Regions from separate parts of the Homo sapiens genome. Here all the other regions are linked to region 1. Evidence: fine-mapped QTL for protein levels in blood plasma. A gene starts in region 1. Each other region holds a variant in brackets. All regions are shown on one strand. Distances are between the middles of the regions. Region 1 holds the start of KDR (kinase insert domain receptor). Region 2 overlaps KDR (kinase insert domain receptor). Region 3 overlaps KDR (kinase insert domain receptor).

The links. PIP is the chance, under the fine-mapping model, that this variant and not a neighbour inherited with it causes the effect. The UK Biobank Pharma Proteomics Project read protein levels with antibody pairs (Olink). The fine-mapping took linkage between variants from a reference panel, not from the people measured, so its PIPs are less certain.
Region 2: its variant is fine-mapped to the plasma level of the KDR protein (UK Biobank, PIP above 0.99). The variant lies in the coding sequence of KDR. If it changes the protein, the assay may bind it differently, which can mimic a change of level.
Region 3: its variant is fine-mapped to the plasma level of the KDR protein (UK Biobank, PIP above 0.99).

Annotation. Positions count from the first base shown.
Region 1 is chr4:55,122,502-55,130,677 of GRCh38, forward strand. It overlaps KDR (kinase insert domain receptor), which reads right to left and starts at 3,094. Exons shown (of 30, transcript NM_002253.4): 1 at 2,726-3,094. The coding sequence starts at 2,792.
Region 2 is chr4:55,103,540-55,108,499 of GRCh38, forward strand. It overlaps KDR (kinase insert domain receptor), which reads right to left. Exons shown (of 30, transcript NM_002253.4): 10 at 4,198-4,354; 11 at 3,148-3,271; 12 at 2,293-2,401; 13 at 1,104-1,445. Among named protein-coding and RNA genes, the nearest start is that of KDR, 20 kb to the right of the region's middle. The variant C/T (reference allele first, on the strand shown) is at 2,323.
Region 3 is chr4:55,094,667-55,102,864 of GRCh38, forward strand. KDR (kinase insert domain receptor) reads right to left here. Exons shown (of 30, transcript NM_002253.4): 14 at 7,696-7,842; 15 at 7,231-7,362; 16 at 4,031-4,137; 17 at 3,471-3,606; 18 at 2,996-3,100; 19 at 1,563-1,676; 20 at 911-999; 21 at 136-289. Among named protein-coding and RNA genes, the nearest start is that of KDR, 27 kb to the right of the region's middle. The variant G/A (reference allele first, on the strand shown) is at 5,926.

The DNA.
Region 1 (8,176 bases):
GTATAAGTAAATACCCAGTGCAAACATCCAGTGCATTGAATCTGAGGATCCCAATATGAACAAATGCAGGCAAAATGAATAAGTGACTGCACATGTTCTCACACACCACACAGATGTGCAAAATAAGTTACTGACATAACTGGTCAATATCATGGTTTTTAAGTCAATAATATGGTTTTTAAAAAACTGGAAACTAAGTTATATCAATATATCTCAGAAATTAACTGGCATTGGTACTGACTTATGTTTAGAACAGTTTTGTTCTTAAGACTTTAGACTCTGTCAGAATATCCCTGGGTCTACAAATCTGCATTTTAACAAGCATTTCAAATTATCCTACCACAGATGGTCTATGGGCCACTCTTGGACAGTTGCTGGTCTGGGTGGTCATGTTTAATTAATTTGCACAGTACTTTGTGCGTGGAACGGGGGTTACATTTATGTTTTAAATAGAGAATGGGGTCTCGCTATGTTGCCCAGGCACTTCTTGAACTCCTGGACTCAAGCGATCCTCCTGCCTCTGCTTCCCTAAGTGCTGGGATTACAGGAATGAGCCACTGCACCCAGCCTGCACAGTACTTTTTAATATGAAAGAAATAACTGCCCCCAAAACAGGCAAACAAAAAACCAAAATGTTTAAAAGCAAAATGAAACCTGGAGTCCCACTTTGTCTAAGAAAAGGAAAATGAAAACAATTCATTTGGATAACACAGATTTCAAACTTGACTGGGGAACACTAGGTTGAGAAAGATGCTGAAAACATGATGTACAATTCACACTGCCATCCAAATGAGAAAAAAACCATTATTTGGGCACATTCTTGTGAGAAAACAAATGGCAGTAAAAATGATTCTCAATAAACTGTGCCCACTCGGCTACCAAAATCAGAAACTCTTGAAGGTCTCTCATAATTTATTGCCACAGATCACATTCTAGACACACTTTCCTGTGTAACAAATATTTTAAAAAAGAAAAGGTATGTCCTTCATTCATAGGAAGCTGAGACTATGCCATACTATTCTAGAGACACGTTTACAACAAAAATCTATTCAACAAGGCTCTCAATAACTTCAAATTCATATTTGTAGACCAACATAGTTTTTTGTTTTTTGTTTTTGCTCCATTAAATGTCATTCGTTTTCATTGGCAAGCTTGAGCTGGACTCTTCAGAAAGTTCTAAAGAAATAACTGTAAGAGGTACACATGCTACTACTCAATAAAAAGCCCTTCTATGTTCAAATCCCATAACCAATATTAATTAATTTGTGCACTGTTACCCTTCCAGCTCAAAGACGGGAAGGAAAAACAACAGTGCCTCTGTCTCTAGAATTTGATGGCACCAATTACAGCCCAATCCAATTAAGCAAGTAATGCACTCCAAAAGGGCAAGTTCACCATTATATTCAGGGCGACCGGCCTGCCGTTACTACTACGCTAGGAAACACCCCAGGCTTAAAAGCAACTCACTTCTTTGTGGAATACAGAGCAACCACATGTTCCAGACCTTCATTCTCTGCCCAGAAAGGGGGAGAGAGAGGGCTTGTCTGGGACAAATGAGTGTCCATGGTGGACTGGACCCGTTGAACCAAGTCATTATAAAGAAAATTCAGTAACCATGGACAGATGATCCTGGTACTGTATGTGGGTGTGAGTGTCTTCTAAGACATGTGATTCTTGTCTTAGGGAGTAAGAAATTTTTTTCCCTGAATTATTCGACTTTTTTTTTTTCTTTCTCTGACCCTTTCCCCTTTCTCACCCTGCAAAGGGTGGAAATCTGGATATCAGCAAACTGGCTGCAGGAAAGAAATATTATCTAAGGGGTTGAGAGAGAAAGGAAAGTGAGGAAGAAAAGACAGACAGCTATTGCATGAAGAACGTGTGTGTTCCTAATTGAAGGAGACGGAAATTTTAGGCGGCAGGGAGAGGAAGGAATGGCACTAAAGCTAGGTACCAAGGCCCACAGGAAAGGTTTTCGGAGCTTGAACTTCTGACTATGCGCTTACACCAAGGACCACAGCGCTTTGAAAGATGTGCAATGCTTTACGCAGGACAGTTGGCTGTTACTTGGAGACCCTTGGGGAAGCTGTCAAAGCCCCCAGGACAAGTCCCTATTCCCCCCCTTCTTCGCTCTGCAAGGAGAGCGGCGTCCTGCACCAAGGAAGGAAAAAAAGTTTCTCTCCGCTCCAGACCCCACTTCACACAGTGGTGTGCAAGTGTGTTCGAGCATGAAGACAACAACGGGCCGGGTCCCGCAAAGAGGCAGAACCGAGTGTACCGTCCGATCCGGGAGACCCGGCCTGAGATTCCGGCAAGGTTTTCTTCCCCGGGCCCGGACTAGGATGTTGCGCGCAGCCAGACAACTTTTCACCGCCTGTTCTCGCCTGCGGAGGCACCTCCTGCCTGCCAACCCCAGGCGCCTTCCCACCCCAGCCTCCCAAGAGCCTGAGGGTGTGTCGGCATCTCAGGACATGCTCCAGCCGAGGTCCCTGTCGCAAACCAGAGTCCTAGAAAAGGAACTGGGCTAGAGCACAGGCGACCACAGACTCGCTGGGTAATCTTGGGCCAGTCTCTGAGCCTCAGTTTCCCCACTGGTAAATGAAAGATCGCAAAATGTCAAGTCCTGTCCAACTCTCCAGCTCTACGATTCCGAGTTAGATCTGGCTTTCAGGTCCTCTCCGCCCTCACCCGACCTGTCTGCCTTCCTCCTCCAGAGTGGGCTCCTTACCCACAGAGGCGGCCCGGGTCTCCACGCAGAGCCACAGGGCGACGGCCAGCAGCACCTTGCTCTGCATCCTGCACCTCGAGCCGGGCGAAATGCCCAGAACTCGGGAGCCGGTTCTTTCTCCCAGCGCCTGTCTAGAGAAGGAGGCGCGGAGGTGGAACTCGCGGCACCCCGCAGCGCAGGACAGTTGAGCGCACAGGGCTAGGGAGCCCGGGCGCCGACCGCGGCTGCAGGGGCGTCTGCGGGTGCCGGTAGGAGAGGATATCCAGGCTGCCAGACGGACTTTCTGCGGCGCGCAAGTGATGCCCGGCGCAGGCAGAGGAAACGCAGCGACCACACATTGACCGCTCTCCCGGGGTCCCGGGACTCAGTGCAGGGTGGGAGCTGGTGCCGAAACTCTAGAGCGCGGAGGCGGGGCCATGCGGGGCGGGGCCGGAGCGGAGGAGGGGCTCTCCCGTGCGGCCAGCCCCGCCCCTCACCCGGGTACCCGGCGGCGATCTCCAGCTCCCCAAGCCCATTTACATCTCCCCATTTCCCCACACAACTGGACTGCGCTGGGCCCCAAGTCGCCCAGGAGAGAACATCCCAGAGCAACAACTTTGTTTCTGGTGTAAATAAAAAGTACTCGGTAACGGGCGCTGAGCAACTCCAAGATTTAATCGCTTGCCGGTCCCCGAAATTTGGGGAGCATCACCAGGAGCGCTGCGAAGAGCAGCGCTCCCTCACCAGGCGCGTCAAAGTGCAGGACCCTCTTCGCCATCGCGCGCGTCTGAAGTGGCCGAGAATCTGCAGCAGTTTGGAGCCACAAGGGAGAAGCGGATACTCAGCCAAGTATGCCGGGTCGCAAGCTGGCAGCGACTCCTGCCAGTAGTTTTGGTTTTTGTATAAGGGTATTTTGTTTGGCCAGTATAATTGTAGTTTAAAAAGCTGAATCTGGTTGCTCTTAATCAGAAAACGCACTTGCCCAGTTCGCCAACATTCCCGCTATTTCCCAAAATATTTGGCGGCTCCAAGTTTGAAGTGACCTGCCTAGCCCCAAGAAGGCTTTTGTCCATCGTGCTCCCCAACGAAGAGCCCTAGTGAAAGTTTGGCCATGCCCCTTTTCAGAGCAGAGCTTCCAGCCAAGATATCCTTAGTCCCAGGGGAAGGAGGCCAGCTGCCAGCGTGCTTCAGTGGAGGAGCAATGAAGCAAAAGCACCTAGGACACTCTGTGACCAAATTGCACAACTGTCTCCACGTGTGTGGACTTCTTGTGGCAGCTGTTTGGAGGGGAACTCCAATTCCTTCCTGACCACATTCGTTCCTTCTGGTTTTCTGTCCATATCTCCCCACACCTGGGGAGTGACATCAAATGTCCCCTAACTTCATTAAATATGAATCTTCCAGATGCCTATGTCTTTTACCTCCCAGAGGTGCTTTTTAATGACAACCTAAAGGACCATTCTTCACCAAGATAAACACACAGAATTATTATATCTACACCTAATTCAAACTAGATTGATTGTATACAATTAATGTAACCTGTTACTTATCTTCATCTGTTTTTAAATATTTACTGTATTCACGCTTTTACTTTTCCAAGTTGACAGGTGAAATATTTTAATGCTGAAATATAATGAATGTATATGGCAAAAAAAAATTTTGGAAAAACACAAAAAGGCTTAGAGTGAAAAGACTTTTCTTTTGGCAGAGGCATTTTTATGTTTCCTTTTTTTTCCAAGCAGATTCTTAAACACAAGTATGTAGACATGTCACCCTTCTCTTCCCACAATTGCTTGGTATAAATGCTATTTGAGCCTTGGCTTTTTTCCCTTTAAATTTGATTTATTTATTTGAGACAAGGTCTCACTATGTTGCCCAGGCTGGTCTCCAATGCCTGGACTCAGTCCATCCTCCTGCCTCAGTCTCCCAAAGTGCTGGGATTACAAGCACGAGCCACCCTGCCCAGCCTTCACTTTATAATATACACTGGAGATTCGTTCTACATCAACCTTTAAAGCTCCATCTTTTATTTATTTATTTATTTATTTATTTATTTATTTATTTTTATATAGAGGCAGGGTCTCACTATGTTGCCTAAGCTGGCTGCGAACAAAGCTCCATCCTTCCATCTTTTCAATGTTGGCATAGTGCTCTACTATATAGATGTACTCATATTTATCTGGGAGGTATTTATTTGGGGAGGGGAGAGAATCTTTAAAGAAACTCCTCTCTTCCTGCTAGTAAACTCAGCAAATAAAATAGGATGGACTCTGGCAAAGTTGGATAAAGGGGTGGGAGATGGAACCTGGTTTGGAGAGGGCAGTTTTTCTCCATCCCCATCACCAAACAATTCCCTATCAGCCTTATTTACAGTTCATGACACTTCCTCTTCCATGTCTCATTTAAGAAGATAGTGTCTCCTCTGAATGCAAACCAGAACCTGCAGGCCCGTGGTAATAGCCCCCTTTAGAAGTCTTGGAGGAAATGATGCGTCTTTGATGGCCGCAAGACCAGAATTTGGCAGAGTCTCAATGAAATCAGTCTACCACATTCCCTCCCACACAGCACTTAGAAGTGCCTTAGGTTCACAAAAAAAATGGCAAAGTCTGTTAAAAAAAAAAAAGATAGAAAAGAAAGAAAGAAAGGCTGTTCCATGTGCAGCACCCTCTCGTTATCTGGCATTGCAAAGGAGTGACTTTTGTGAGTTAACCCAACAGTAAGGCACCTAGCAAAGTGCCCCAAATGTGTTGAGTGTTCCATAGATGCTATTCAGATGCCACAGCAGAGTAGTAGCTAAGTGCACAGACTCTGGATTTTATTCCCAGATCTACCGCTTATGATCTGTGTGATCTTTACCAACTTACAAGTAACTTATCTATGAAACACAAAAAAAATTATAATAGTACCTTCTTCATAGGGTTCTTACAAGAATTAAAGGAGTTACTGCATGTAAGGCACTTGGAGTAGGCCCCAACACAGCTAGTAAAGATCTTGGACATAGAAAGCACCAGATACACATTAAGAAACATTCTGCAAAGGTTGCTTATACTACAATGCATGGGCTTCTTCATGCTGCTGAGATCTAAACTGCTAAGCAGGCTCATTCATTCAACAGTTTTTGAGCACCTACTATATGCTAGGCATTGAACCAGGAACTGGGGTTACGATGGTGAAAATAATGTCAAGATGAGCTTAAATGAGGAATCATTGTAATAGCCTCACCCAAGACAAATTTAATTTAATCTTTAAGCACTTCTTGTCTCCAGCTACTTTTCTGGGCTTGTACATACAGAATATACATTGTTCATACTCAAAGCACACTGCATAAATTACTCTCCATGATCTCCAAATTTGGTTACATTACCAACAGTATTTTGGACTCCATGTCTTAACAAGTTATATGAAGATTTGTCAAAGGTTAATAACTGTGGAAGTTCAATTGCTTCAAAGAGAATAAAATACCCAGGAATCCAACTTACAGGGGATGTGAAGGACCTCTTCAAGAAGAACTACAAACCATTGCTCAATGAAATAAAAGAGGACACAAACAAATGGAAGAACATTCCATGTTCATGGATAGGAAGAATCAATATCGTGAAAATGGCCATACTGCCCAAGGTAATTTGTAGATTCAATACCATCCCCATCAAGCTACCAATGACTTTCTTCACAGAATTGGAAAAAACTACTTTAAAGTTCATATGGAACCAAAAAAGAGCCTGAATTGCCAAGACAAATCTAAGCCAAAAGAACAAAGCTGGAGGCATCATGCTACCTGACTTCAAACTATACTACAAGGCTACAGTAACCAAAACAGCATGGTACTGGTACCAAAACAGAGATATAGACCAATGGAACAGAACAGAACCCTCAGAAATAATACCACACATCTACAACCATCTGATCTTCAACAAACCTGACAGAAACAAGCAATGGGGAAAGGATTCCCTATTTAATAAATGGTGCTGGGAAAACTGGCTAGCCATATGTAGAAAGCTGAAACTGGATCCCTTCCTTACACCTTATACAAAAATTAATTCAAGATGGATTAAAGACTTAAATGTCAGACCTAAAACCATAAAAACCCTAGAAGAAAACCTAGGCAATACCATTCAGGACATAGGCATGGGCAAGGACTTCATGACTAAAACACCAAAAGCAATGGCAACAAAAGCCAAAATTGACAAATGGGATCTCATTAAACTAAAGAGCTTCTGCACAGCAAAAGAAACTACCATCAGAGTGAACAGACAACCTACAGAATGGGAGAAAATTTTTGCAATCTACTCATCTGACAAAGGGCTAATATCCAGAATCTGCAAAGAACTCAAACAAATTTACAAGAAAAAAACAAACAATCGCATCAAAAAGTGGGCAAAGGACATGAACAGACACTTCTCAAAAGAAGACATTTATGCAGCCAACAGACACATGAGAAAATGCTCATCATCACTGGTCATCAGAGAAATGCAAATCAAAACCACAATGAGATAGCATCTCACACCAGTTAGAATGGCAATCATTAAAAAGTCAGGAAACAACAGGTGCTAGAGAGCATGTGGAGAAATAGGAACACTTTCACACTGTTGGTGGGACTGTAAACTAGTTCAACCATTGTGGAAGACAGTGTGGCAATTCCTCAGGGATCTAAACTAGAAATACCATTTGACCCAGCCATCCCATTACTGGGTATATACCCAAAGGATTATAAATCATGCTGCTATAAAGACACATGCACATGTATGTTTATTGCGGCACTATTCACAATAGCAAAGACTTGGAACCAACCCAAATATCCATCAATGATAGACTGGATTAAGAAAATGTGGCACATATACACCATGGAATACTATGCAGCCATAAAAAAGGATGAGTTCATGTCTTTTGTAGGGACATGGATGAAGCTGGAAACCATCATTCTCAGCAAACTATCGCAAGGACAAAAAACCAAACACCACATGTTCTCACTCATAGGTGGGAACTGAACAATGAGAACACATGGACACAGGAAGGGGAACATCACACTCCTGGGCCTGTTGTGGGGTGGGGGGAGGGGGGAGGGATAGCAGTAGGGGATATACCTAATGTAAATGACGAGTTAATGGGTACAGCACACCAACATGGCACATATATACATATGTAACAAACCTGCACATTAAACCTAGAACTTAAAGTATAATTTTAAAAAAATTAAAAAAAATAACTGTGGAAGTTGAACAGTGGTACTTAAAGATTCATTTGACTATTCTCTCTACTTTTACGTGTTTGAAAGTTTCCATGATTAAAAAAAAAAAAATCTGTTTTAAATGACTGTAATCAAAGGGATGCCCAGGCCAATACAACACTAACTTTTCCATTGTCTTTTCCTTGATTTGGTGAAAATAAGGATTTGGAATGTCCTTGAGCATTATCTTTTAATCATTTCAGGCAGCAGCTTCATCATTTGTCAATGAAAATAATAATTCTTACCTA
Region 2 (4,960 bases), 21 kb before region 1:
GAAGCCAGACAAGCCAACAGAAAATCCATGTGATCTATGTGGTGTGACTTGAAGGATGCTGGGGATGACTTGACCCCAAAGTATCTCTTATTATGACACCTGAGTCTTAAAACTAGCGAACTTTATGCTAGTGTCTGTCAGAAGGTGCCTCTTCAAATACGCCAAGGCCTCTGATGAAGACGTTACCCTCTAAAACTGTGGTATAGATGAATTTACTTGGGCAATTTCCTTCCTAACAGTAAAAAAAAAACAGAGGGCACATATATCCTAGGAATTGGAAAGGGACACCACAAGAGGAGAAAATGGAGAGAAGTGGCACAAAGAGACGCTCCCCAAATTTGCCTGATTTTCCCACAGACAAAGCCATGGCTGCCCAGCTTTTGCACAAGGCATGAGGTTAGACAAGGGGTAGACAGTGCCTCTATGGAGGAATTTACAGAGCTATCTGCTCACTGAAGTGATCGTCCCATTGACCTTGGGCTACGCTGGATCATGTGGGATGACCCAGAGGTACAGACAGTGAATGTAGCTTCCTTCCCATGGAGTCTTCTAGGTCTTAAACGCAGCCCATCATCCCACTCTTCATGCAGCAGGTGCCTTATTGAGCAGTTAGTATATGCTGCTATGCTCTATGACTAGAGCTATAGCAGGGAGCAAAACAGAGAACAATTCCTGTTCTCATGGACACAGAGACCTCACTGTGCTGTGACTTCCCAGTGGTTGCCTATGTTCTCCTCCTTTCCTTCATGTTTACCACTGTGAATTTCTGACACTCTCCTAGCTCATAGCAGGCATTCCACAAATATTTGTCTATTTAAATAAATGGATGCCCAAGATAAGGCAGAAGTTTCCCTGGTTCAAGCTAATATCCCTTGCATATACTAGTGAATTACTCCATCATCAGGTTTTGTTATTTTCTCCTTTCGATATATCATTTCATTATTATTAGCTTCTTTCTTCCTCAAGGACTTTCGGTGAAGAAGTGTGCACCAGTTTACAACATAATCTCCTAGAGGACAGTAATCTTTGCATAGCACCTGAATTGCACTACATTTAAGGCATTCCAACTGCCTCTGCACAATGATCCAGAATTGTCTCCCTACCTAGGACTGTGAGCTGCCTGACCACGCAATGTCTTTTCTTGGTCTTCCTGTCTTGAGCAAGGCAGACATAGTCTCCTTGGTCCTGCAAGGATGCATTCTTAAGCTCCATGATCAAAATGTCATTTGTGCTATTAGAGAACATGGTGGCATTCAATTTCCAAAGAGTATCCAAGTTCTTGCAAACAGGTGTGGGCAACTCTCCCACATGGATTGGCAGAGGCTGTGGGCCAAGCTTGTACCATGTGAGGTTCTCAAACGTAGATCTGTCTGCAGTGCACCACAAAGACACGCTCTCCTGCTCAGTGGGCTGCATGTCAGGTTGCAAAGTAATTTCAGGACCCCCTAAAATGAAGAGGCCATAGTTATTGAATGGTGATTTAACTTGGTACAGCTCACTATCATCTTGCTGCTTTCAGACTACTACAAAGTACCAAAAGAAATGAAGCTCTATCCGTTCCAGGTGATGTACTACAACTTGACAAACAAACTAGACAATTCAGGTCCCAAAATATCTTATTTGGCCAAACACATTACTTGAAAATGTAAACGAATTCCTCAGATATTTACCACATCTCCACTATGAGCTCTACGCAATGTTTAATATATTAAAAATCCAAAGCAAAATCTCTAATTCTAACAGAATTTTAAAATTAGGTCTTCATTAACACTAACACTCAATGATATGAAAGCTACATTTATGCCAATGAATTAGCCCTGGCTATAATATTCCATTCAGCACAATCAGCTAAAGCTTATCCATAAAACTAAGATGCACAGGCAAAATCGGCAGCATTGGGAGGGCACTGCTCCTATGTCCTTCTGATTGCCTCCATAAAGCCCACCCTCATCAACTGTTCCACAGCAAGCCCACCAATATGTACTGAAGCTCAATAAGCCAGGCACTGTGCCAGACTCTGAAGACTGAGATGTAAATACCACACAGAGCTTGTGGTTTAAAGCATCTGTGAAACCATTCTCTCTCCAGTGTAGTTAGACGCACTGACTTCACATAAGCCCAGGAGATACCTGAGAAGTTGTAATTTATGAATGAAAGCATCAATGATCAATCCAAGTCCTCTTTCCTAAATGCCATGCCACTCACATGAATGGCAAAAACAACAGGGAATTACATAGCTTAGTACCCACTGTGTGAGTGATCCAACCCAAACCTCCAGAGAAGAGTACTTACTGGTCACGTGGAAGGAGATCACCCTCTCTC[C/T]TCTCCCGACTTTGTTGACCGCTTCACATTTGTACAAAGCTGACACATTTGCCGCTTGGATAACAAGGGTACTTACAGTCTGTGCGGGGAAAAAACAAATCCCAGGCCATAAACAACGCGGCTGTTTGTGCACAAGCACTCAGTCCAGCAGTCTCCACAATCACTCCAACCTGCCTATGCCATTCCCACTTCTGCAGCGGTTGGACACGCTCAAATTTATGCAATTGCAGGTTGAGTATCCCTTACTCAAAACGCTTGGGACCAAAAGTGGTTTGGATTTTGGATTTTTTTTTTTGGATTTTGGAATATTTGCATTGTATACTTACCAGTTGAGCATCCCTAATCTGAAAATCCAAAATGCTCCAACGAGCGTTTCCTTTGAGCACCATGTCGGCACTCAAAAAGGTTCAGAATCTGGAGCATTTTGGATTTGGGGTTTTTAGGTTTGGGATATTTACTCAATTTGTATAATTATGCTGCTGTGGAGCTCACACATTATATAAAAAGGGCTTTGGAAGCCATGAAACTAATGATGTGTTTTAATATGATATGATACACATTTTTTCATTCTCATGTTTATAAAATCAGAATCACCCTACACAGATGCATAGATTTAATGTCATAGATGTTTTTATTTTTCTCTGATAAGCTATTAATAAGTTAATGGTACTGCTAAAAGTCAATGGTATTTTCAAAGTGACTTAATACGCTCTATTTAATCATCCAGACTATTTGATTATTAATCTCCAATATGCCTCACATATTATTGTACCATCCTTCCATTAAAGAGAGAGAGATTTTCAAATTTTAAAACTTCAAACTCACTTTGTTTTTTCCTTCAATTAGAGCAAATTGATTTTTATTAACTTCAATTTTATTTCCTCCCTGGAAGTCCTCCACACTTCTCCATTCTTCACAAGGGTATGGGTTTGTCACTGAGACAGCTTGGCTATAAGAAAGAGATAACAGCGCATATTATGATTTAATTTTTCTTTAATTAGAGTCAAGAGTAAGGAAAAGATTCAGACTTTGGTTATTCTGTTCTTAGAAATAACTTCCAACGCAGCCTACCATGGTACAAGACTTGGCGCCAATTAAAAATAGGCATTGACAATGAAGGAAAAGGTTCTAGGTAGATTCATTCAGGATACAGGAGGGAAGCAGCTATTCTGGGAATAAACCTTCATTCATAAATTGGATCGACAAGACAATTCAAGTTAATTTAGTTCAAAGGAAGGCAAGGAAACTTAGAAGCCACTGGGCTCCTTAAAGTAATTTCTCTGGGACCATGGTCTCTGTGAAGGAAATGATCAGCAGCTGAGGAAGAAGCTCATAGTGGCCATTTCAAAAACAACAACAGGAAGTGGACTGCTTAGGGTGGTGGTGGGTTGGCTGCTGTTGTTGTGTTTTTCCCTAAGGATGTCTGGACTTGTGTCAGAGCATGATAAGCTGGGCCTGAGACCCTGAGGACTGGGGCTGGGTCTATCACTGCCTCTCATCTATCAGCATTTCCTCTGAGAGATGGATCTTCACACACACAAGAAGGAGGGATGTGGTATTCACCAGCCGATTGGTATCGGGAGAAAAACCAAAGACTGGCAATTAGCAAACTGAGCAAATAGCCTGTGTTTGGAGAAGTGTACCTCACGGCTAACCTAACAAGGCTGAGCTTAGCTAACCCCAAAGGAGGATACTCCAAGCAAAGACATCCCCTAAAATGTAAGACACAGAGAAAGATGGATGGAGATTCAGGCTACCTCTTGAGAGAAAACTTTTTTTGGTTTAGGCTTCTCCATTTAGGATGGAGTCATATCATAGCTCAGCTGTAAGAAATGCAAGATGGCAGGAAAGCAAAGAGCATGTGGCCTTACTCACCTGGGCTCGTTGGCGCACTCTTCCTCCAACTGCCAATACCAGTGGATGTGATGCGGGGGAGGAATGGCATAGACCGTACATGTCAGCGTTTGAGTGGTGCCGTACTGGTAGGAATCCACAGGAGAGATTAGAGATTTCTCACCAATCTGGGGTGGGACTGAAGATGGGAAAAACAACTTTTGAATTGTCAGTCAGCTTTGAAGAATGGGAAATAGAGGATTTTAGCAACTAAAGCTGACTTTCTTTAAGCATATGATTTTGCTTCCACTTTCTTTTTCGAAGAACACCTAGATGTGGAAACAAGAGACCTGAGTTCTAGTGATACTCATAAAAATAACAACTAGCCAGGCATGGGGGCTTATGCCTGTAATCTCAGTATTTTGGGACGCCAAGGTAGGTGGATCGCTTAAGCCCAGGAGATCAAGACCAGCCTGGGCCACATGGTGAGACCCCATCTCTACCAAAAAAAAAAAAAAGGAATAAAGTAACGAAATAAAATAAAAATGACAATAAGCTAATAATAATAATAAACTAACAAGCTGAATGACTTTATGGAAGTGTTGAAATCCTGTGCCTCTCATCTGTATTACAGAGATAGTTCTCTCTGTCCTCTCAAGTTTAGGAGATCAGGGAAAGGCTACAGAAAACAGCTGAAATAGCACAGTAAATACATTTATTATGTGCCAAGCATTGTTTGAAGTGCTTTGCATGAATTCATTCACTTAATCCTCACAACCACTATTACTGTCCACAGCTTTATACG
Region 3 (8,198 bases), 28 kb before region 1:
TATAGAAATTCAGGTCTCTTTCAAATTATGAGGTAGTATTGGACTTTTCCCATGATCAAATTCCTTGTAACACCCTATCACCCTGTCTGCTCTGACAAGAGCATGCCATAGCATGCAGGAAGCACTAGCCAGTACCTTCCTCTTCTTCTACATCACTGAGGGACTTCTCCTCCACAAATCCAGAGCTGGCTGAGCTCTGGCTACTGGTGATGCTGTCCAAGCGCCGTTTCAGATCCACAGGGATTGCTCCAACGTAGTCTTTCCCTTGACGGAATCGTGCCCCTTTGGTCTATAAAAAAGCAAAGGAACAAACAAACTCCTTGAATACAAAATGAGTCTTTAAAAGTTTACAACCTTTAAAATGTAGTAAACCATGGAGATAATTGAAACTACTAAAAAGCAGACAAGGAGGACATCAATTTCAGGATTATGCAATCTCTGAGCTGAAACTTGGGGCAAGTTTTGTGCATAATAGGGTTTCTTCCACAAAGCCTAGCTCCTTCTTTAGCTTAAAGTGACAAATGCCACATTTTGAGTTGCATTCAGACACACTTTCAGCATTAGGATGCTCTTCACAGAGGGATTTACACTCCACGGGGCCAAATATGGCTAGGGGAGAGACAGAATAACCCAGAGATGTCCTACCCTCTGCCCTCCCCTTTCCTCGCTCATACCTGCCTTCTCCCCCATGTCCACACTCTGTAATGGGTCAGTAGATTAAAATCACATACATAAAACAGAAACATATGGCCCCCAGAAGGTAAAAGAGGAAGTTACAACAGCCAAGAGGTAATATGAGAAGATTCCTCACAAGTTCTTCACAAAATTTCAACTAAAAAACTAACCTGTACCATTTTGAGTTTCCCTTCATTTTATAACATGGCCAGAGCAGGATTAGGAGATGACATACCTTGTAGGGGACAAATTCATTTCTCTTGCTCCTCAGGTAAGTGGACAGGTTTCCAAATTTGCAGAATTCCACAATCACCATGAGTGGCCCTGCAGGCAGCATGTCCAGGAAGGAAAATGGGTTTTCACTCATATTCCTCACTAAGCGTTTAATATAGTGATGAACCCAAAAACACCTTAGAAGAAGGCTACAACCTTTCATTGGGACAGGAGTGTAGAAATCAGCTGGTCCCAATCCCCTTATATTGTAGCTTTTCTTTTTTCCAGAACACATTTTCACAAGATTAACCAAAATTTCAGAAGAAAACCCACCCATCTACTTGCTTTTCAGTGCAATCTCCTGATATGATTCCATTTTGGGGGTAACTACCCTTAAGCTTTCAAGTTTTAGGGAAGTTTACTCTTCTCTGGACATCTGTTACACAAGTAACAAACTGTATCATAGTAGCATGACATTTCTTAATTCAGAGAAAGTTTTACAATAATTTAATTCTAGTGCCAATTAAACCTCCATGAAATATATTTATTCCTAGGAATCCGCAAAGTATTCTAAGCTAAGAAAATCAAGGCCAGAGGAGTTGACTGCTTTCCCTCAAACACTATCAGAGAGGCATGTTAAAATTGGGTGACCAAAACCACCCACAGTTACTCACCTCCTGGCTTGGTACAGGCACCTAGAAGGTTGACCACATTGAGATGGTGACCAATATGAATGAGGATCTTGAGTTCAGACATGAGAGCTCGATGCTCACTGTGTGTTGCTCCTTCTACAAATACAGTACAAAGAGGGAAATCATAGGTATGGACATTTCCTTCAATAATTGGGGTCCCTCCCTCCCTGCATGCCACTATACAACTTACCCTCCGGGGTAACACAGCTGTGACCTAGTTTACAGACCACATGCATTTCCTCAAAAGTGAAGTGTAAATTCTATTTTCTAATTTGAAATAAAATTCATATTTTAAGTGAGCCAGAAAGTTTGATATTTAAAGGAACCCATTGTGAAACCTTTTGCAAAGCGGAGAATACATCTGCAGTGGAATCATGCCCAGATTCTCTTCTTCTGCAAAACTGGATTTTTGCATTTCAGGTTCACTATGATTCTGAGGGTCTGATCATTTCAGCACTTCCTCATAAGGAAGCAACACCATGTATTAAATATCTTCACGTGTTAGGGGCTATACCGAATGTTCCAGCCAATCTGTGCCGATCTGTGCAGGCGAATTAAGGCCAGCTGGAAAGACCAGTTGGCACATGAGGCTGATGGCACTAAGACTATGTGTTTGATCCTGTATGGACTGCTACACTTCCCACTAATTCACAGGCATGGTCCACATCTAAGGCTCTGATGAGCCACCTCAAAATTACACACTCCCTTGGCCACAAGAGAAAAAAGGCAGATGGAGAAAGATAGCTTTGAAATGCACAAAACCTATTGGCAAAGGGTCATTGGCACTGCCTTCATCAATGAAAGAACATCACAATTGAAGAAAGAAGCTTTACTGTCTAACCTCCTAAAATGAAAATGGCCAGACCAGAATTCCGTTACTATTAGAATTAACAATTATTTATAAAGCTTTTAATTTAAAAAATATAACCCATTATATTTTTTTCTAACACAACCATTCTTGTTTTGCAAATTATCTTTTACATATGAACATCTTTTACATATTCCAATTCTGGAGAACATGCTATTTTTGTATTTCACTATCTTCCTTTCCATGTCTCTAGATGGTCTATAATTATCTGATTCCACAATATATTAAGAAACAATTTTAATATAACCACAGTCCTTTTTCCCTGTACCCAGAACCACTAAGTACAACTGTGTTGGCTGAGCCCTGCACGAGGGTAACCAGGCAAGAAGGTGAAAGCCATTCCCAACTTTGCTTGCCAGACCATGCATCCTGGCATAAAGCTACAAAGGAGGATCCTTTTTCCAATTTGCACAAGGGCATTATTTAGGCTGACTGCATGTGTGGCTAGTAGGCCCACATAAGCACAAAGCTACTGATACAAGCCTTGCAACATATTTAAAGACTAGATAAAACAGAAAGATAGATCACCACATAATTTTGCTTTTACCTTTCAACATTTTGACTGCTACTGTCCTGCAAGTTGCTGTCTTGTCAATTCCAAAGGCATCTGCTTCAATCACTTGGCCAAAGGCACCACGGCCAAGAGGCTTACCTAGAGTCAACAACAACAGCAACAAGAAAACAGACTTGGATTACTATACAACCAAAGTGATACGCAGAGACATCAACTAGATAGGGTGACCATACATCCCAATTTAACATGGATAGTCCAGTTTACTCCTTTGTCCTGGCTTAATTATTTAATAACTCCCCCTTCACTCTCCAAATGTCCTGCTTTGGATGATTACATAGGGACCCTACCTCTAAGTGGCTATATGAATGATTATACAAATTCAAGAAATGGAATTAATATTTCTAAACCAGAATCCAACATCTGAATACACCACATTTGTCATCATTCTAATGGAGGAAGAGATGGCCTGGTAAACACAATATCAAATTAATAGCAATTGAAAATGCACCTAGCTTCAGCCGGTCTCTGGGGAATTCCCATTTGCTGGCATCATAAGGCAGTCGTTCACAATGTTCATCCAATGGGAGTTCATCTGGATCCATGACGATGGACAAGTAGCCTGTCTTCAGTTCCCCTCCATTGGCCTGGAAAGCATCAATCCTTCCAGTCATAAACACACTGTTGTTTGGCTGTTGTTTTGTGTGCTTGTTATTGCTGTTTATTGGAGCCTCATTCCTGTCTCATTTTCCAATAAAACTCATGGAGTTTGAGAGTGGTCCTATTATAACCCTGCTTCTAGTTTCCCTTGTCCCCCAAAGGAGCTCAGAATTAAGGTTTTAAAGCTTAATTACACTAGACAGTCCAAGCCCTTTTCCTCTCTAGTGGCTTCTATCAATTAAATCCCTGAGATCCAGCCAAAAGAAAGTGGGCAGGAACGTTATTGTATTGAAATAAAAATGTGCCCATTGAGCCAATAACAATGGGAAGAAACAACTCAAAGAACCCCAGTCAGTTTTCATTAATCATGAAAACCAATGTGCATGGGCAGAAGGGAAATTATTTTTTTACCCGCTTAACGGTCCGTAGGATGATGACAAGAAGTAGCCAGAAGAACATGGCAATCACCGCCGTGCCTACTAGAATAATGATTTCCAAGTTCGTCTTTTCCTGGGCACCTGGAAAGACACAATTGAATGAGTATCAACAGTTGGAAACTTATACTTTTTGTTTGTAAGATGACAAATTTTAGCACTAAAGCAAAATCCCAAGCTTACCAACTTGGAAAAATCCTAGAGGACAACAGTTACACACCCGTAACTTGAATGGAGTCTACAGAATTCTTTTTTTGAATTTAATTTATTTATTTATTTATTTATTTATTTATTTATTTATTTATTTATTTTTAGAGACAGGGTTTCTTTCTATGTTCCAGGCTGGAGTACCATGACACAATCATAGCTTATTGCAGCCTCCAATTCCTAGGCTCAAGCGATTCTCCCCCCTCAGCCTCCCGAGTAGCTGGGACTACAGGTGCATACCACCAAGCCCAGCTAATTTTTCTTTTATTTTCTGTAGAGACAGGGTCTCACTACATTGCCCAGGCTAGTCTCGAACTCCTGGCCTCTAGCCATCCCCCCTGCCTTGGCCTCCCAAAGTGCAGGGATTACAGGCATAAGCCACCACACCTGGCCTACAGAATTGTTAATGGAAAATTTAAAGCTTGCAAAACATTGCTCATGTAAACTTACAACAATAAAATTCTTAAGTAATTAAGCATAGAAGTAGTAATGTCTTAAAAGCCAAACATAGAAAGTGTTTAGAGGAAGAGCAGTCTTTGATGGAAAGAAAACAGATCATTCTCTACAGAGAAAAAAAAATATTTCTATTTGAGGAAAACAAAAGTCTTCTTTTAAACTGATAGTCAATATTTTGATCTGTGCAGAGTTTGCAAAAGGATCACATAAGAAACCAAGTAGGGAAATAAACAAAATTTTTTGACCTGAGAGTTACTAATGACCATGTATCTACTATGCACTCATCACTTTAAATATGCCATTCCACTTAATCTCCTCAACAACTCTCAGTTTTCAGATGAAGAAACAGAAGACCAGAGAGCTTAAGCTACTTGACTGAGGGCACACAGCTAGTCAGTGGTTCAGTCAAGAGATAAAGAGGCCTGTCCAACATGAACTAACCATTACATACACTACCCCATCCCTTGTGGCAGGAGTCTGAGTGAGGAGAAGAGGAAGAGCCAAGATGAGCACATCACGCATGGCCTGGTAATGGGAGTTTCAAATCACTCATGAAAGGAAAGAGAAGAGGAAACTAGAAGTCAGCAAGCAAAGCTGCAGATGCTCAGGGCTTCAGAGGACAGCTCTGAGTGGAAGAAACAAAATACAGAAACAGGCTTTCCACTAAGAGTGATTAGCAAAGAGATGATAAGGAAGCAGTCATCACTTGGGGCCTCCCATCAGAAGAGTGCAAGGAGAATCAAACCGGGCCACAAGCTGTGCGGATGGCCCACTACGGCCTCAAGAGAGAAGAAGACAAGTAAGAAACTGGTTTGCAAAATAAGTAACAAATTGGTTTGCAAAATAAAAGTTAACTTAACCATTGAGAGACAAGCACAATTATGCTTGGAGTAAATTTTGTTTCTCTGGTGGTCCTAGGGAAGTAATTCTCTATTTATACACACAGATTTAAAAGTCCAGTTGAACATAGAGGATAAAAAGTTCAAAGAGTCTGTTTTCTATGTGTTTGTATATTAATATTCTCGCATAACATTTGGGAACCCAGCAGGAGTATTAAATATCTAGCTCTGCCTTTCTTAGCATTCACTCCAGGTAAGAAGTAACTATAATCTCTGTGCCAGTGTTACCTAGTTAGGCATCTGTAACCAGCTGCAGGCCACCAACAAGAGGTAATGCAGAGCATCAGAGACAATCTAGACGTCATTCTGC[G/A]GATTTGCCCTAAAACATGAATCACTTTGGAAATGACAAAACCGCCATGGTCTTTGAAATCTTTATTTGCAAGTGTAGTTTATGAAATGCTAATAAGCTTATACATTTGAAAATATGTCAACATATCTCGATGCAATACTTGGCATCATAGATTTGGCAGAGTAAAGGGACCAAAATCTAGACTTTGAGAGACAAGTTAGGATGAGTTCATAGAAATCCATCGATCCCTTCTATCACCATACTTCTTTCTTACCCTTGCATACCATTCTTTTACCCCACAACACAGTTTTATTCTTTCCCTGGTGGGCTATAAAAAAAAAAGCCATAGGAATATACTTCTTAAGATAAAATATTCTGCCACAAATTACTTTTCCTAGCTAAGAAAATGACAGATTTCACATCACTTCTGCATACACACGTATTGAGATAAAAACCAAAAATTTTCCATGTCAGAAGAGCAATGGTCTATTGTTCACAAGTGAATCTTAATTATCTCTAGTCCAATTAAAACTCGGAATCCTTGTGACTATCTGGATAGCATTGACTGCCATGATTAGGCAGCAATTCTAATGTTTTTCCAAATAAATATAAAGGCATCATTTCTATAAGTTAATCAAGCCATTCAAACAAAGACAGAATCAGGGAGAAGAGGCTATTCATCCTGCCTGATTAAGAATTTTTCCACAATAAGAACTGCAGGAATAGGAAATGTGATGCAAGCAGAATTATAACAACATTAATTATGTTTGCTGGTTAAAAGAATACATACTCACTGAGAAAATTTACAAAGTACAAAGAATATTAAAAATCATCTGTCGTTGCCCTATTCAAAGTGAATGTGTGTCTATAAGATACAAACTAATCTTCAAAAACCACAGGATGTATCTATGACTTCCCACTGACCTTCTTTTTTTCTTTTAAGTTCCGGGATACATGTGCAGAATGCTCAGGTTTGTTACACAGGTAAACATGTGCCATGGTGATTTGCTGCACCTATTAATCCATCTCCTAGGTATTAAGCCCAGCATGCATTAGCTATTTTTCCTGATGCTCTCCTTCTCCCCAACCCACAGTAGGCCCCAGTGTGTGTTGTTCCCTTCCCTGTGTCTATGTGTTCACATTGTTCAGCTCCCACTTATAAGTGAGAATGTGTGGCGTTTGGTTTTCTGTTCCTGTGTTAGTTTGCTGAGGATAATGGCTTCCAGCTCCATCCATGCAGCTGCAAAGGACATGATCAGATTCCTTTTTACGGCTGCATAGCATTCCATGGTGTATATGTACCACATTTTTTTTTATCCCACTGACCTTCTATTATGAAAAATGCCTCCACTTTTGCACAGCCAAGAACACTGCATGCCTGGCAGGTGTAGAGGCCTTCGTCCTCCTTCCTCACTCTGCGGATAGTGAGGTTCCGGTTCCCATCCTTCAATACAATGCCTAACAGAGGAAGAAAACGATCATTCTCATTTATGATGATGTAGTCTGTGAAGTTTTTCAGGGAAATTTAGAAAATATAAATGCTGCCCTTCATCTTGTTCTATTATCTAACTCTGTAGAGTCACATGGGATCTACTGCTGACTAATCTCCTATATGGCTTTCATGAAAATTCAACAGGGCCCCATACTCCAATTCTAAGTCTGTGAAATGAGCCAGGTCATGGACACCAATACTGCTTTTTTTCTACATTACATCAAGAAATAATATGGCTTTTTAGATAACATCCCTGGGAAAGTTCTGCAACCCAAGAGTGATAGCCAAATTCTATTTACCTGAGTCTTCTACAAGGGTCTCATTATCTTTAAACCACATGATCTGTGGAGGGGGATTCCCAGATGCCGTGCATGAGACTTCGATGCTTTCCCCAATACTTGTCGTCTGATTCTCCAGGTTTCCTGTGATCGTGGGTGCCACACGCTCTAGACACACAAAAAGAAAATCACAGAACATGGAATTATAACTTTTGAAATGGTTCTGGTATCAGCAAACTTTTAAACAGTTTAAATTTAGTAAAAAGGAACTTGTTGATATATTAACTTCTGGGAAAATACACTGGTCACTGGGTAAAGTTAAATGAAACAAGTCAGTCAGGACACTGCAAACAGATTAATGGCTTTTAACATTCATATTAGTGATACTAGCTGGTAATCCCATCACAAAAGAAAGGTTCAGGGTCACCTTTATGGATTTTTCCTCTAATTAGACACAGCCTCCCCAGGTGAAAACTTCCCTCCCATGAAGATTCTAGTCAATAATACCCTAGAATCCCTTCAAA